2 separate regions of the Homo sapiens genome follow, and region 2 is linked to region 1. Evidence: fine-mapped expression QTL. A gene starts in region 1. The other region holds a variant in brackets. All regions are shown on one strand. Distances are between the middles of the regions. Region 1 holds the start of CAPNS1 (calpain small subunit 1). Region 2 overlaps WDR62 (WD repeat domain 62).

What was found.
Region 2: its variant is fine-mapped to the expression of CAPNS1 in whole blood (INTERVAL, PIP 0.98).

Annotation. Positions count from the first base shown.
Region 1 is chr19:36,136,829-36,145,151 of GRCh38, reverse strand. It overlaps CAPNS1 (calpain small subunit 1), which reads right to left and starts at 5,086. Exons shown (of 11, transcript NM_001749.4): 1 at 4,995-5,086; 2 at 3,932-4,155; 3 at 2,819-2,852; 4 at 2,411-2,500; 5 at 2,186-2,243; 6 at 2,024-2,088. The coding sequence starts at 4,140. LOC105372385 (a long non-coding RNA gene) reads left to right here and starts at 5,170. Exons shown (of 3, transcript XR_935954.3): 1 at 5,170-5,261. RefSeq lists enhancers at 4,620-4,679, 4,770-4,819.
Region 2 is chr19:36,094,650-36,102,927 of GRCh38, reverse strand. WDR62 (WD repeat domain 62) reads right to left here. Exons shown (of 32, transcript NM_001083961.2): 21 at 5,849-5,901; 22 at 3,311-3,529; 23 at 2,053-2,180; 24 at 1,611-1,714; 25 at 1,154-1,264; 26 at 777-914; 27 at 77-191. Among named protein-coding and RNA genes, the nearest start is that of OVOL3, 12 kb to the left of the region's middle. RefSeq lists an enhancer at 1,820-2,321. The variant A/G (reference allele first, on the strand shown) is at 3,501.

The DNA of each region.
Region 1 (8,323 bases):
ATATGTGAAAAACAAGTGTGTGACCAGGCATGGTGGTTCATGCCTGTAATCCCAGCACTTTGGGAAGCCAAGGCAGGTGGATCGCTTGAACTCAGGATCCACCTGATGTCCACTCAGGAACATCACTTTCTCACTAAATCCTTGGGACACCAGTTCTACCAGGACTATTTCCAGAGAAGAAAACATTCAAAGCTGAAAACTCTACCCAAGATCATAGTTAAGAGCTAATGTGTACAGACCACATACTATGCGCTATACACTGTGCTAAACCTTTTGGATGTAGTTCCGATTCGGTATCACCATTATCACTCACCCATTTTACAGAGAGAGAAACTGAGGCACAGAGCGGTTCAATAACCTGGTTAAGAGGTAGAGTTGGGATTGCTTTGCTCTATGCAATATGTCTGTGATTACATGACATGTATATTATGTATGTGTCTGTTTGCCCTATGTGTTAAATGTGCATGAGGCCAGGCGCAGTGTCTCAAGCTTGTAATCCCAACACTTTGGGAGGCCAAGGCGGAAGGATTGCTTAAGGTCTGGAGTTTGAGACTTGCCAGGTCAATATAGTGAAAGCTTTTCTCTATAAAATATTTTTTAAAACAAAAATAAATAAAAATATGCATGTATCCAAGATCAGCTAATGGCTGGCCCATGTACAGATAACACGTGTGTCCCTGTGCACACTGCCTCATACACCTTCACGTATGTGGGTGTGCTCTTAGGTGTGTGTGTGTGTATATGCGCATGTGGCTGTTATAAACGTGGGTTCTCAAGCCCAAAAGACCTGAGTCCACAGACTGGAGTGCAGTGACGAAACCTCTGCTCACTGCAACCTCCGCCTCCCGGGTTCAAGCAATTCTCCTGCTTGAGTAGCTGGGACTCCCGAGTAGCTGGGACTACAGGCGTGCACCACCACGCCCAGCTAATTTTTGTTATTGTTATTTTTCTTTTTTTTTCTTTTTTTTTTTTTTTGAGACGGAGTCTCTCTCTGTCGCCTAGGCTGGAGTGCAGTGGCGCGATCTCGGCTCACTGCAAAGCTCCGCCTCCCAGGTTCACGCCATTCTCCTGCCTCAGCCTCCCGAGTAGCTGGGACTACAGGCGCTCACCACTGCACCCGGCTAATTTTTTTGTATTTTTAGTAGAGACAGGGTTTCACCGTGTTAGCCAGGATGGTCTCGATCTCCTGACCTCGTGATCCGCCCGCCTCGGCCTCCCAAAGTGCTGGGATTACAGGCGTGAGCCACGGCGCCCGGCCTATTTTTATTTTTATTTTTATTTTATTTTTTGAGACAGAGTCTGGCTCTGTCGCCCAGGCTGGAGTGCAGTGGCGCGATCTCGGCTCACTGCAAGCTCCTCCTCTCGGGTTCACGCCATTCTCCTGCTTCAGCCTCCCGAATAGCTGGGACTACAGGCGCCCGCCACTACGCCCGGCTAATTTTTTTTTTTTTTTTGGTAGAGACAGGGTTTCACTGTGTTAGCCAGGATGGTCTCAATCTCCTGATCTCGTGATCCGCCCGCCTCGGCCTCCCAAAGTGCTGGGATTACAGGTGTGAGCCACCGTGCCTGGCCAATTTTTGTATTTTTAATAGAGATGGGGTTTCACCATGTTGGCCAGGCTGGTCTCAAACTCCTGACCTCAGGTGATCTGCCCACCTTAGCCTCCCAAAGTGTTGGGATTACAGGCATGAGCCACCATGCCTGACCTTTATCTATAACTTGAGACAAATGACTGCTTCTTTCAGGAAACTGAGCCTCAGTTTCCTCTTCTGTAAAATGGAATATAATAATTGTGCCTGTCCAACAGGGTGGTTATGACGGTTCGGTCACTTTATATAATTAAAGTGCCAGCTGTGACAGCTGGCATTGTTATGATTTACCGCCACATGTCTGCAGGTGACTGTGTTCTGATGAATGCATTTCCACATCTGTGGATATGAAAGCTACATGTTGGCTTCCCAAACATACTCTCAAAAAACTCTCTGTCCACCCAGGGCCTCTCCCACACTGCCCCCAAGGATACATCCATCACGGCCACCATGCTGCGACATGTGTCAATGCCAAAACCATCAGTCTTCAGATCAGGGTCTGTGGGTAACAGGTTGAAAGTCAGAGGCCAGAGGTCAAATCCTCTCTGACCCCTCTGCCTCTGAATCTACCCTATTCCTTAACCCCGGTCACTTACGTCGTGTCACAACCTTATTGAGAATGTTCATGAGTTCTGTGGCGCTGACCTCCATGTCCTGCGGGCGGAAGTTAGGGGCAGGTCAGGGGTGACTGAAAGGGGTCTGAGAATGTCATGGAGAATGGGAACACTGGGATTGTCATGGTCAAGGGTGTGTGTGCAAGGGCAGCCACAAGGGAAGGGATGGAACGGTTAGGACGGGGCCAGGGACCCCAGGTTACTTACATCTCCAGCCAGCTGGGCAAAGAGTCTCCGGAACTGCCGGACCTCCTCACTCTCGTTGGCCTCAATGTTGGAGTAATGTGTGCGTGGGGGCTGCAAAGGGAGGAGAGCTCAGAGCAGGGGGAGGGGAACCCGGCCAGGACGGCTCCCCAAACCCAGGTACCCTGGGTGGGGAAGTCAGAGTGGGCTGGGCAGCTTGATGAGGAAAAGAATGAGGGGTGGTAGTGAATGGGGTGCACGTATGTGGGGCATGGCTAAGACCCATGGCGAAGCTGCAGACACGGCATGGGAGGAACTGGCAGAGGAATTTCACAAGAAGGGGAGGAAGGTGGGGCTTCTCTACAGGAACAGGGATGGGACCTCGAAGAGGCCTTGGCAGGAGAAGGGGGTCTGGTTGCAGAGGGGGCTTACCGGGGGCTCCGGGTTGTACTGCGCAGCCGCCTCGCTGCGAAGAGATAAGGGGGAGGGGTTAGTGCCAGGGGCGGGGCCTCCAACGGGCAGCACTACAGAACCATCAGCCCCAACGCTCCAGACCCCAGCCGTTATCTTCCTTACTTGGTTGCTGTGCCTTTCATTTGTTCTTGTCCTCATCTGTCCCAATCCACACTGCCCTGGTCGTGCCCCTCTTCTCCCTTCCTCAGGCCAACCCCACCCTCGAGGAAACCCAGAGACCGGTCCCCTGGGAGGCTCCCCTCCTGCCAGGCACACCTACCCAGTGGCAGATTTCAGTCATCTTGGCCACCCTAAACCTAAAAAATCCCACGTAGAATCAAAAGACCCCGCCCCTTGGAGGGCTCACTTCATAGAGGCTCTGCCCCAGCTTCCCAAGGCCTTATCCTCCTCAGGTGCCATCTGCCCAAGACCCTACTCCATGGCCCGCTTCCTAAATGCCCGTCTTCCCAACATCCTACCCCAGCCATTGGTCCCCGCCCCTTCAAGGGATCACTGCTAAGTGGCCGTGGCTAATTAAGCCAACCTGCCCTATCCCTACCAGGGCATTTTTCTCCATTAATCCAGCCAGTTCCCAGCAAGCCCAGCCCATTCTGGGCCATTTACCCTACCCCATTAGGTCTTGCTTCCTCCTGGGCTCACCTCCTCATTAACCCACCTAAAACCTCTGACCACACTCATAAGTCAAGCCCCTTCCGTAAAATGTCACTCAGACGCATTGGCTCCGCACCTTTAACGTTCATCTCCAGGTTAGCCAATGCAGGCTGAGCCCAGACCCATAAGCCCCACCCGCCAAAACTCCACATCAGTCCCCTCAGGACCACATTGTCCTGGTCCCACACAATCAGACTACTCCCATATCAAGCACCGCCCCCAATGACTGATATCCGCCTCACTGGGGTCCACCCCCTTACAGCAGAACTCTCAAACCAGGCCTCCCCGGCCTAATTCATGTACCCAGGTTAGCCTCCAGGTTAATCCTATTCTATTTTTAGACCACGCCCCTCCCAGACCACGCCTCACTGAGGCTCCTCCCATTCCCAGGCCCCGCCCCTCTGATAGTCTCCGCCTTACCTGATGGCGCTGATGACTCCGCCTAGGATGCGCATGGCCGTTCCACCGCCACCGCCGCCTCCACCACCGCCGCCGCCGCCGCCGCCGCCGCCGCCGCCCCCGGCCCCGCTGATCAGGCCTCCAAGCACATTTCCCAGGCCCCCACCCAGGCCCCCGCCTCCCCCGCCGCCGCCGCCGCCGCCCTTCAAGAACGAGTTAACCAGGAACATGGCTGCGACTCACTGCTGGGGGGAAAAAAGGGGACCAGTGGGTGCTTCGCCCCTGAGCCCACACCCTCCCTTCAAACACGCATTTCCGGCAGCTGGACCTGGGAGGAATCTGAAGCCTCCGGGTGGGGGTCTGAGTTTGCGAGGGCGGGTTGTCCGCGGATGGGTGGGGCAGGTATGGGGGATCAGGTTTGCAACCTCCTCAGGTCTAAAAGGCACCCGTGGGGCTTGAGGGAGCCTGGACTGGGTGCACGCGTGAAGGGGAGGGTGCAGATCTGGTGGGGGTTCTCTTGGTGGGGACCCCAAGTTGGCGTAAGGCGTTCCCGACATGTCTGGGCGCTAGAATGTGAGATCCAGAGCCCAGCCTGAATGTAGAGGTCCTTGGCAGGTCATGGGCGCGGAGCAAACATCCACGGCCTAAAGGGCCCCAGGGCGGGGTTTAGGAAATCCCAAATGTGGGCTTGAGAATTTAGGTATTCCCAGCGGCAGGATTCCAGTGTCACCTCTGGCTCTGTGGGCTCGGGTCTAAGATCGTGGCTGTGAGCTCTGGGTTCCCGGACAATGGGGTTCCCCGCTGGAACTGGGGGCACAGATCTACGATCGCGGTTCAGGACACCCCAAGGAAGAATTCACAGGGTATCTCTGAAACCTATGGGCCTGTATTTTGGATCATGAGACAGAGGGTGGAGAAGGGTCCCCGGGACGGCATAAAAGGAGATCGAACAGGTCTGAGGGTTCGAATCTGAGACCATGGATCTGGGGGGCTCCTGAGGCCGAGACTTCACGGTTTCGCCGGGTCTGGGGGCCGCCAAAGTCGGAGTTGCGGGGTGCGGAGGGGGTACGGGCCGGGCGCTTACCGCCGCACACGTCCGGAGTTCTGGGAGTCGGTTCCACTGCCGCTCCCGGGCCTCCCGCAGCGTCCGGCTCCGGAGGGCGGGGCCGGTGACTCAGGCCGCAACTCTCGGGTCGGACACTGCACCGCGGCCCTGCTGTCGCCCGCGCGGTCCTAGAGCCGAAGCGGACATTGCGCATGCGCACCCCACACCGCCCGGCTAGCTGGATCCAGGTCTGGGCCCCGCCCTACGCGTTTCCAGCGCCGGAGGTCTTAATCCCGCCCTGACTCGGTAGGCGGGGGTCTTCCCGACACCCCTCAGGTCTGGGTGGAGGCACCCGCGGACGAGAACTCGGAGGGGACCCACCCCCCGAGTGTCGTAGTGTGAATTTTCACCCTAGGGCATGCCAATATCCTTCCAGGGTGGCGGTTTTCGGTCCGCTCACTAAGGGACTCCGCACGGGCCCTCTGCAGGTGTTGTCGCGACAAACACCTCCTGGAGGCCTGGAGTATGGTTTGACTCACACGCTGGGGGACAGTCGCCCGTGTCTGTGGCGAGGATTGAGGCTGGATTGCCTTTCCCAGTGCCTGCAGCAGCCCGGATGGCAGTCAAACCGCAGGCAGCGCCTGCGCCGCCTCCCAGGCGAACCTTACCACGCCCCCGCCCCAGTCAGGGGCCACCAGAATCATTCCTTCCTGGACTGGCCCAAAGAGTGTCCTCAGTATGCTAGCCTCTAAAGAAGGCCCCAGACACAGGAAGATTCCTTTGGCCACGGCCTGGTTTCTTTATTTACTTAAAAAATATTATTGTTTTTACATAATAGAGACGGAGGTCTCGCTATGTTGCCCAGGCTGCTCTTGAACTCCGGGCCTCAAGCCGTCCTCCTGCCTCAGCCTCCCAAAGTACTGTGAGGTACTGGGATTACAGGTATGGGCTACCGGCCTTTTTTTGATTTAATTTAATTTTTTACAATAATATTTTTACATAGCCTGGTTTCTTTTCTTTTCTTTTCTTTTTTTTTTTTTTTGTTTTGAGACAGCGTCTTGCTCTGTTGCCCAGGCTGGGGTGCAGTGGCGCCATCTCAGCTCACTGCAGTCTCTGCCTCCCAGGTTCAAGCGATTCTCCTGCCTCAGCCTCCCGAGTAGCTGGGATTACAGGCATGCACCACCACACCCAGCTAATTTTTGTATTTTTAGTAGAGACGGGGTTTCACCATGTTGGCCAGGCTGGTCTCAAACTCCTGATCTTAGGTGATCCACCTGCCTCGGCCTGCCAAAGTGCTAGGATTACAGGCATGAGCCACGGGAGTCCAGTACTTTTTCAGGACTCATCGGGGGGAGCTAAATCTGGCCCCCAGGCAGGCTGGCTGGCTCTTATCCCCTACCCTGCAGGCTGGCTAGGCTTGAGTTGAATCCTGGCTGTGCCCTGTAATAACTGCACAACCCCAAAAGAGTGGCTTGATATTCCTGAGCAGCGATTTTCTCATCTGTAAAATGGGAACATGGGTTGCTCCATACCACTAGGCCCCCTATCAAAATTAAATGATATCTGCAGCAATACTGATTATTAAAAAAAAAACTTAAGTGGTGGCTGGGTGAAGTGGTTCATGCCTGTATTCCCTGCATTTTGGGAGGCTGAGGCAGGAGGATCTCTTGAGCCCAGGAGTTTGACTCCAGCCTGGGCAATATAGTGAGACCTTGTCTCTACAAATAATACAGAAATTAGCTGAATGTGGTGGCATGCGCCTAGTCCCAGCTACTCTAGAGACTGAGGTGGGGGGATCACCAGAGCCCAGGAGGCGGGGGTTGCAGTGAGCCGAGATCATGCCACTGCACTACAATCTGGGTGACAGAGCGAGACTCTGTCTCAAATAAATACTGGGCACAGTGGCTCATGCCAATAACCCCAGGACTTTGGGATGCTGAGGCGGGCAGATCACCTGAGGTCGGGAGTTCGAGACCAGTCTGACTAACATGGAGAAACCCTGTCTCTACTAAAAAATACAAAATTAGCCGGATGTGGTGGTGCATACCTGTAATCCCAGCTACTCGGGAGGCTGAGACAGGAGAATCGCTTGAACCCAGTAGGCAGAGGTTTCAGTGAGCCAAGATTGCACCATTGCACTCCAGCCTGGGCAACAAGAGTGAAACTCCGTCTCCAATAAATAAATAAATAAATTGGTGATAAATGCTTTGTAAATGCCCCCATTAGCTCTGTGTCTGTGCTCATGCTGTTCCCTCAGCCTCGAGGCCAGCTGTATTCCTCAGCTGGTAGACTCTTAGTCTTCCTTAAATAGTACAAAAACAGGCCAGGTGTGGTGGCTCACGCCTGTAATCCCAGCACTTTGGGAGGCCGAGGTGGGCAGATCACTGAGGTCAGGAGTTTGGGACCACCCTGACTAACATGGTGAAATCCTGTTTCTACTAAAAATACAAAAAATCAGCCAGGCGTGGTGGCGTGTGCCTGTAATCCCAGCTACTCGGGAGGCTGAGGCAGGAGAATCGCTTGAACCCGGGAGGCAGAGGTTGCAGTGACTCGAGATCGTGCCATTGCACTCTAGCTTGGGCAACAAGAGCGAAACTGTCTCAAAAAAAAAAAAAAGATACAAAAACAAGTAACCATCAACCACTCCTCCAAGTGCTTGACGTCCATCAGTTCCCTTGTTCTCCTAACAGCCCTGTGACATAGATGCTATTTATTATCCCCATTTTACAGATAAGTAAACCGACTCTGAGGTTAAACCCAAGCAGTCACTCTCCCTAGCCTGTATCCTTAACCACTACCCTTATGCGTTAATAATATAATTAATATAATAGGTCAAATAACAACATCACAACAGACAAAACTAGTTGCAGCTGATGTTTCCTGAGGCCTTGCTGGGGCCAGGCCAAGGTAACTGCTACACAAGCCTTGTCTGCAGGGCAGGAGAGAGAATGGAGATTCTGAAAGGCAGGGTCACGGAGGGTGGCAGAACCAGATCTGAACCCGGGCTTGGCACAGATCTTTTGGTGATGACTAATCCAGATTCCCTTCTCACCACACCCCTCCCTGCCAGACTGACTGCTCCAGCTCTCTGCCCTCTCCCGAGGCTCACTTGCTGCCAGCCCTCATGCCCTCGGCCAGGAACTCCCCTGCTGCCTTTTTTTTTCTGGCCTGATTGTGTAGCTACTCAGGCTGCAGGTGTCACCTCAGGAGTCATCTCTTCCAGAAAGACCTCCCTGTCTCCACCCAACCTGAGACTAGGTGAGGCTTCCAGTTATATGCTTTCAAAATGACTTGTACTTTCTCATGGCACTCACTGCCAATCGTAACCATATTGTCATCTAGTTCTGGCCCCCAACCCCTTATTCCCG
Region 2 (8,278 bases), 42 kb after region 1:
GGGATGATTCTCATTCAGCCTGCCCTGGGGCACTGTTGAGGAGCCAGAGGGTGGGCAGTGCTTGGCCAGCTTCTACCTGGATGCCTTCTGGAGGCTTGAGAGGAACTGCGTGGAGATACTCAGGCGTGGGTTGAAGAAGTGGTCTTCAGCTTCAGAGGCCTCCACGTCTCCCAGAGCTGCGGGGAAGAGCTCTAGGGGAAGATCCCGAGGGGACCCTCATAACCCTTCCCGCCGAGCAGCCCTGGCCCTAGGCCAGCCCACAGCCCAGCGGGGCACTCCCCAGAAACCCTTATGTACAGACACAGGGTACGAGCAGGGGCAGTGGGTGAGGAGGCATCGTGAGGCTCAGGTCAAGAGTGAAGCAGTGGGCCGGGCACGGTGGCTCACGCCTGTAATCCCAGCACTTTGGGAGGCCAAGGCGGGCAGATCATCTGAGGCAGGAGTTTGAGACCAGTCTGGCCAACATGGTGAAACCTCATCTCTACTAAAAATACAAAAAATTAGCAGGGCGTGGTTGTGGATGCCTATAATCCCAGCTACTCAGGAGGCTGAGGCAGGAGAATTGCTTGAACCAGGGAGTCGGAGGTTGCAGTGAGCCAAGATTGGGCCACCGCACTCCAGCCTGGCAACAGAGCGAGACTCCGTCTCAAAAAAAACGAAGCAGTTGCTCTCCACTCACCCTCCTGGCCCTGCTGGGGAGCCAACTCCAGGGACGCCAATGCTGTGCCCAGGCTGCACAGACGGCCTCGGCAGGTGTGGGTGAGGCAGGGCCCTACCTCTGCAGGGGGACTCAGTCAGTGTCTCAAAGTGGTGGCGGAGGAACTTCTCCTGCTCCGGAGTCTGGGGTAGGGAGCTGCTGGGGACGCTGGGTCCCTCGGGCAGGGACAGCTCATCTTCTGTGGGACCTGCGCATCCTGACAGGGAAGGAGGGGAGGGACAAGAGGAGCCAACACCATGAGTCACAGCAGACGCCACCTGAAATGGAGAAAGCGGGCCCCACCCATCCCTGCCCTGTTGCCCGCAGGCTGAGAAGCAGGGATCCCCGTCTTCCAGGCTCAGTGGGCTCCAAGTGCAGGGCCTGTGCTTAGACATTGTGACTGGCCCTAAGCCAGGCCCGAGCAGCGAGTCCCCTGCGTGTCTGGCCCCTGCTTACCTGGGAAATGGGGCAGCGACGTGGCAAACCGAGGGGCAGGGTCAGGAGGCGGAGCTGGGGAGTGGATGGCTGCGAAGCTGCACTCCAGGTCGGCCTCTGACTCCCCCGAGTCTGAAGGACAGAGTCGGGGTCAGGAGCCCACAGCCTGACCATTCTGGTGAGCCAGGGCCAGGGCTACCCTTCCCTGGGCTCAGTTTCCCCATCTGGAGGAGGGATGGTAAGAGCAGCTGCCCCCCATTTTATGAATAAGGGAAGTTCCACATCAAGGAGGTGGCAGAGCTGGGCTCTCAGCTGTAGGCAGCTGGGCCCAGAATCCTCAGGCAGCAGCAGGGACCACATGTGTCTTCCTCGACAGACTCTGAGCTTCAGTACTGGGTCAAAGTCACCATCGGTGCCCAGAAAGGGGCTTGGCTGAACGCACAGACTGTCACAGGGTCCCTGCCTGCCCTGCACTCACCCTCAGGCGGGCTCTGGTCCTTTGGGCTGTCGGAGGACACCCTGAGGTAGGAGTCGCCCTGCTGGTCTCCAGGCCCGGCCTCCACCTCCTTCCTGCAATACTGGCTGCAGTGCCAGTGGGGGCAGAGAGGGAACAAGGACTTCAGCTGGAGACTCAACAGCTAGCCCCACCCGGAGCCCCTAGGCACCTGTACCCGCTGCTCCTGCAGGAGCACTGCGACAGCCTCCCCGCCTCCTCCAAATGCCCCCTCCTTCCCCCAGGTCAGGCCCTCCTGTACCCCACCTGGAACCAGGGAACTAAGGCTGGGCTCCTGCCCCATCCAGGCCTCAACTGTCCCCACTCCCACAAGCCCACTGGGAAGGCAGAGAGCACTTCTTCCAGGATGCAGCTATCAGCTGGGGGTTCCTCCAACTAAGGCTCCCTTGGTGGAAAGGACACCCACCTGTCTGTCCCTGTGACTGTCACTTCTGCCTCCAGAGAGTAGAGGATGAGCTCACTGGCCTCAGATGATTCCTTCTGCTGGGGCAGGAAGGAGGGGTGCCCGCGGCCAGCTTCCTGGGGACTCTCTGACTATGGGGAAGACAGCACAGCCATTCTGAGGCAGGCATGGCTGGGGCCACCAACAGTGCGCCAGGAACCATGCCAGCAGCCCCACTGCTGGAGGCTGTGAACCAGGGCCTGTGCCATGCCCTCCACTCGCAACCAGCTTGTCCTGGTCTGCCCCTGCATTATCAGTCCCTTTACAGATGAGGAAGAGGTGTGGCACCAAAAATAGGAGGCCCAACCCTCTACGTGTCTATTTATATCAAGTTCAAGAATAGGAAACCCAGTCCTTGGTGAGAGGTCAGAACACTGGTTATCCTGGTGCGGGGACCTGACTGGGAAGGGCAGAAGGGGGTTTCTATGAGGTAGAAAACACTCCAGATTTTGCCCAGGGTAGTGGACACACGTGAATTACACAGATAGTTCATCAAGCTGTATACCTAAAATCTGTGCATGTTACTGGATGTATATTATACCACAATGAAGATGACAAATTATAGGATAGGATAAAAATGAATTTTGTTTGGAAAATAGTAGAGAAAGAGCTAAAGTTGCACGGGCACCTCTAAGAGCCCAGGCCCTATACTTAAGCATGGATTCCTGTAAAAGCCCTCTGGGGCAGAAGAGATTGTTATTACCATTTAAAAACAAAACAAACAAAAAAATTTAAAAAATATTTTTGTAGAGGTGGGATCTTGCTACGTTGCCTAGGCTGGCCTTGAACTCCTCAAGTGATCGTTAAGTAATCCTCCTGCCTTGGCCTCCCCAAATGCTGGGATTACAGGTGTTAGCCACTGCCCCTGACCCCATTATGACTACTTTTTAGAAGACTGAAGCCCAAAGAGGTAAGCCTCTTACTCCAGGTCACACAACAGGAATGGGTAGGGTCAGGGCTCGATCTACCCAAATGTCCCCCACTTGGGTACAAGCCTGCTCTAGCATCCAAGCTCTTAACCCCCAAGTGACCCACTTTCCAAAGACTCCCTGTCTGCCTTGGGAAGTCTTGCTGTGCAACAGACCTGGGGCTCACCCTCCTGCCCTTCACCATCTCATGTAATCCTCCCTGCCCCCATGGAGTGGGAGTCAGCCTAAGGCGCCAGGCCCTGGGGCCGTCACGGTGCCGGGGCTATGGGCCAGGCTGCGGTGGAAGTGTGTACCTCACTCAGCAGGCTGGCCAGGCTCTGTGGCTCCAGTGAATCCAGAATGGAGTTCTCCAGACTCTCGGGCTTCATGGGGGTAAAGTAGCAATCCAGGTCCTGGGCATCCAGGATGGTCTTGAGGGGCTCTTGGCCGGCCCGCTCTGCCCAGCGGCCGTGGGGCTGGTAGCTGCGCTTGGCGTGGAAGGCC[A/G]AGCCATCTGCCACATCATCGTCCCCTAGCTTGAAGGATATCGGACAGTCAGGCAACTGGCTGAGTGCTCACTCACTGCAGGGAGCGACACGGACATTTCACACAGCCCATCTGGACTCTTGGCTTTCAATACCATTCAGAAACAACTTCCAGGTACATATCTCCAGCGTGAACCTTTCTCTGTTTTTTTTTTTTTTTTTTTTTTTGAGACGAAGTCTTGCTCTGTCTCCCAGGCTGGAGTGCAGTGGCGTGACCTTGGCTCACTGCAACCTCCACCTCTCAGTTTCAAGCAATTCTCCTGTCTCAGCCTCCAGAGTAGCTGGGATTACAGGTGCCCACCACCACACCTGGCTAATTTTTGTATTTTTAGTAGAGATGGGGTTTTGCCATGTTGGCCAGGCTGGTCTCAAACTGCTGACCTCAAGTGATCCGCCCGCCTCGGCTTCCCAAAGTACTGGGATTACAGGCATGAGCCACTGCGCCCAGCCCATTTTGTTGGTTTTTGGTAGAGGTGGACTCTCACTATGTTGCTCAGGCTGGTCTCAAACCCTTGGGCTCAAGGAATCCTGTTTCGGCCTCCCAAAGTGCTGGGAATGCCCAGCTGGGATTCATGAACTTTTCTCTGAAACTTCAGAATTGCACATGTGACTGCTCTACATTTCTGTATGGATGTCTGGTAGGTATTTCAAAGTTAACATGCTGACAACTCAACTCATTTCCTCTGCACAAACCTGCTCCTCCTAAAGATTCCCTGTTTCAGTTGTTTTTTCCAGTTACTCATGCCCCAACCTTGGGATCATCCTTCATTCACCTCTCTTATTCTGTCTCTTATAATCCACATTGTCTTTCTTTTTTTTTTTTTTTGAGAGGGAGTCTCACTCTGTCGCCAGGCTGGAGTGCAGTGGCATGATTTCGGTTCACTGTAACCTCTGCCTCCTGGGTTCAAGTGATTCTCCTGCCTCAGCCTTACCAGTAGTTGGGACTATAGGCATGCACCACCATGCCCAGCTAATTTTTGTATTTTTAGTAGAGACGGGGTTTTACCATGTTGACCGGGATGATCTTGATCTCTTGACCTTGGATTACACCCGCCTTGGCCTCCCAAAGTGCTGGGATTACAGGCGTGAGCCACCGCACCCGGTCTCTTTTTCTTTTTTTTTTTTTAAGAGACAAGGTCTCGTTCTGCCATCCAAGCTGGAGTGCAGTAGCACGATCACTGCAGCCTCCAACTCCTGGGCTGAAGTGATCCTCCTGCCTCAGGCTCCTGAGTAGCTGGGACTATGGGTGTGCACCACCATGCCTGGCTATTTTTAATCTTTTGTAGAGATGGGAGTCTCATTATGTTGCCTAAGCTGGTCTCGAGCTCCTGGCCTCGTGGCTTTTACACGTATAGGCTGTTATGACTAGAACATTCGTCCCAGTATCTGCCTGTCTCACTTGCTTCAACTCTGCTCAAACATCATTTTCCCAATGAGGCCTTTCCTGTTTACTTAAAACTGACACCCCCCAACACTCCTTATTTTCTTTTTTATTTTTATTTTTTTTATGAGACAAAGTGTTGGCTCTGTTGCTCATGCTGGAGTGCTGTGGAGTGCAGCTCCCTGCATCCTCGACCTCCCTGGCCCAAACAATCCTCCCACTTCAGCCTCCTGAGTACCTGGGACTACAGGTATGCACCACCATGCCTGGCTAATTTTTTTATTTTTTGTAGAGATGGGGTCTCACTATATTGCTCAGGCTGGTCTTGAACTCCTGGGCTCAAGTGATCAACCTGCCTTGGCCTCCCAAAGTGCTGGGATCACAGGCATGAACCACCGTGCTGGGCCCCTGTTCTTTTTCTCTTTTTTGAGACAGGATCTCACTCTGTTGCCCACGCTGGAGTGTAGTAGTGGTGCCTTCTCAGTTCCCTACAGCCTCAACCTCCTGGGCTCAAGTGATCCTCCCACTTCAGCCTCCTGAGTAGCTGGGACCACAGACACGTATCACTGCACCTGGCTGACGTATTTTCCTTCTTGATTCTTTTCCCTCCACAGCACTTATCAGCACCCAACCTACTACGTCATTTACTTATTTAATGGGGATATTGTTCCTCGCCCACACAGGCAAGTGAGCCTGTGAAGGGAGAGACTTTTGTTTCCCTTGCTCACTGTTGTGTCCCTGACATCCAGAACAATGCCTGGCAGAGAGCACTGATCATGAACAAAGGGCTGTCTCACTGAGCCTGGAAGGATGACAGGGCTTCTCCAGGGAAAAGAGGGACATGGAAAGGAAAAAGGGCTTCCAGAAGGCAGAGCTGGGGAGGCGTTTCCTCTGCCAGCCCCTGAGCAACCCTCTCCCTGAAGACTTACCAGCCGCTTTGCCCACAGTGGCAGCTTGCCGTTGGTTAGCAGGCAACGAGGATCTGGAAAGACACAGAATCCATGAAAAGAGGACAAACAACCCAACAAACAGGCCACATACATAACCGGGCAGTCCCCAAAGAGGCAACACCACAACCCAGAAGTCAGAAGGCTCAACAGCACCGGGGGTTAGGGAAATGCAAACTTAAACCGTGGGATGCGATATTTGACTCACGAGACTGACCGAGGTGAAAAAGCTTAATACTACCAAAGGATGGCAGGAAAAGTGTGGGGACAATGGAGAGCCTAATGCAATGCAGGGTGGGGCAGTAACTGGGTTTGGAGAACTCTTGGGGTTCTCTTTTTTTTTCTTTTTTTGAGACGGAGTCTCGCTCTGTTGCCCAGGCTGGAGTGCAGTGGCGCGATCTCGGCTCACTGCAACCTCCACCTCCCGGGTTCATGCCATTCTCCTGCCTCAGCCTCCCAAGTAGCTGGGACTACAGGTGCCCGCCACCATGCCCGGCTAATTTTTTTTTTTTGTATTTTTAGTAGAGACGGGGTTTCACCATGTTAGCCAGGATGGTCTCGATCTCCTGAACTCGTGATCCGCTCGCCTCGGCCTCCCAAAGTGCTGGGATTACAGGTGTGAGCCACTGCGCCCAGCCGGGGTTCTCTTTTAAAATAAAGGCCAGGCATACTGGCTCAAGCCTGTAATCCCACCACTTTGAGAGGTCGAGGTGGGAGGATACTTCAGGCCAGGGGTTTGAGACCAGCCTGGGCAACACAGTGAGACCTTGTCTCTACACACACCATCCCCTGATACACACATATTTAGCTGGGTGTGGGAGCTTGAGCCTGTGGTCCCAGCTACTCCACAGGCTAAGGAGGGAAAATTGCTTGAGCCCAGGAGGTCAAGGCTACAGTGAGCTATGATTGTGCTATTGAACTCCAGCCTGGGCAACAAAAATAGTGAAATAAAATAATAAAACAACTTTTTTAAAGTAAAATAAAATAACTCCAGGATCCAGTGGTGCTACTCCTCAGACTCTCTCCTGGAGAAGTCCTCACATTTCGAGGAGGCTTAGGAGTGGTCTCCACTCCATAGCCTCATTAACAGTGATGTGCAATCAGGAAAAACCTAAATGGCCACCTGGAGGGGAATAACTTAAAATTTCGCAGGCGTCTGCTTTGTATTCACCAACATACAGGTAGATGAGAGACTTTGCAGAGGAAAAAGATTCCGGACAATATCCGCAACATAATTCAATTTATTTTTACTTGTTCATTTATTTTTTGAGACGGAGTCTTGCTTTGTCACCCAGGCTGGAGTGCAGTGGCGCAGTCTCAGCTCACTGCAACCTCCGTCTCCCAGGTTCAAGCAATTCTCCTGTCTCAGCTTCCCAAGTAGCTGCTATTACAGGCGCACGCCATCACGCCCAGCTAATTTTTGTATTTTTAGCAGACATGGGGTTTCACCATGTTGGCCAGGCTGGTCTCGAACTCCTGACCTCAGGTGATCCACCCGCCTCGGCCTCCCTGAGTGCTGGGATTACAGGCGTGAGCTACCACACCCGGCCTCAAACACATCTTTGATGCCTGGTCAGGTGGTGTGAGTGGATGGAGCTGACTACAGTCTCTGCCCTCAGAAGTGATCACATGCTGAGATGTGGACAGCTACAACAACTGGCTCAGAAGTGGGTACAGCAGATACCAGAAACATGAGCCACACAACCCTAAGACTCTGCTTGAGCTACTATAGGAAAGAGGTGTTCTATTCTCTATGGAGTTTTATAAGCCTGTAGTTGCTGGGGGTATCTTTTCCCCTAGTAAAGGGACAGTCTGTCCATCAGCAAAGCCAACATGAAGAAAAGCAGAGCCAAAAGATACAAAAAAAAATCTTCCTTTTAACATCATCTGTCTATCTGGATCTAGCCATGCTGAAAGCTAATCCTCTCCAATTTTCAGGCACCAAAAAATCCTCTTCCTGACTTAAGCCTGGTTGCTTTTATACTGAAAGAGTCTTGACTGATATGATTATTGAGTTTCTTTCTTTTTCTACAGACAGGATCTCACTCTATTATTCAGGCTGGAGTGCAGTGGTGCAATCATAGCTCATTATAACATGGAATTCCTGGGCTCAAGCGATCTTCCTGCCTCAGCCTTTCAGGTAGCTGGGACTATAGGTGTGCACCACCAGGCCTGGCTAATTTTTTTCTTTTTGTAGGAACGGGGTCTTGGTACGTGCCAGGCTGGTCTCAAACTCCTGGCCTCAAGTGATCCTCCTGCCTCAGCCTCCCATGTAGTTGGGACTACAGATGTGTGCCACTATGCCTGGCTAATTTCTTTAAAAAATTTTTTTTTTGCATAGATGGGCTCTCGCTATGTTGCCCAGGCTGGTCTCGACCTCCTGGCCTCAAGTGACCCTCCCATTTCAGCCTC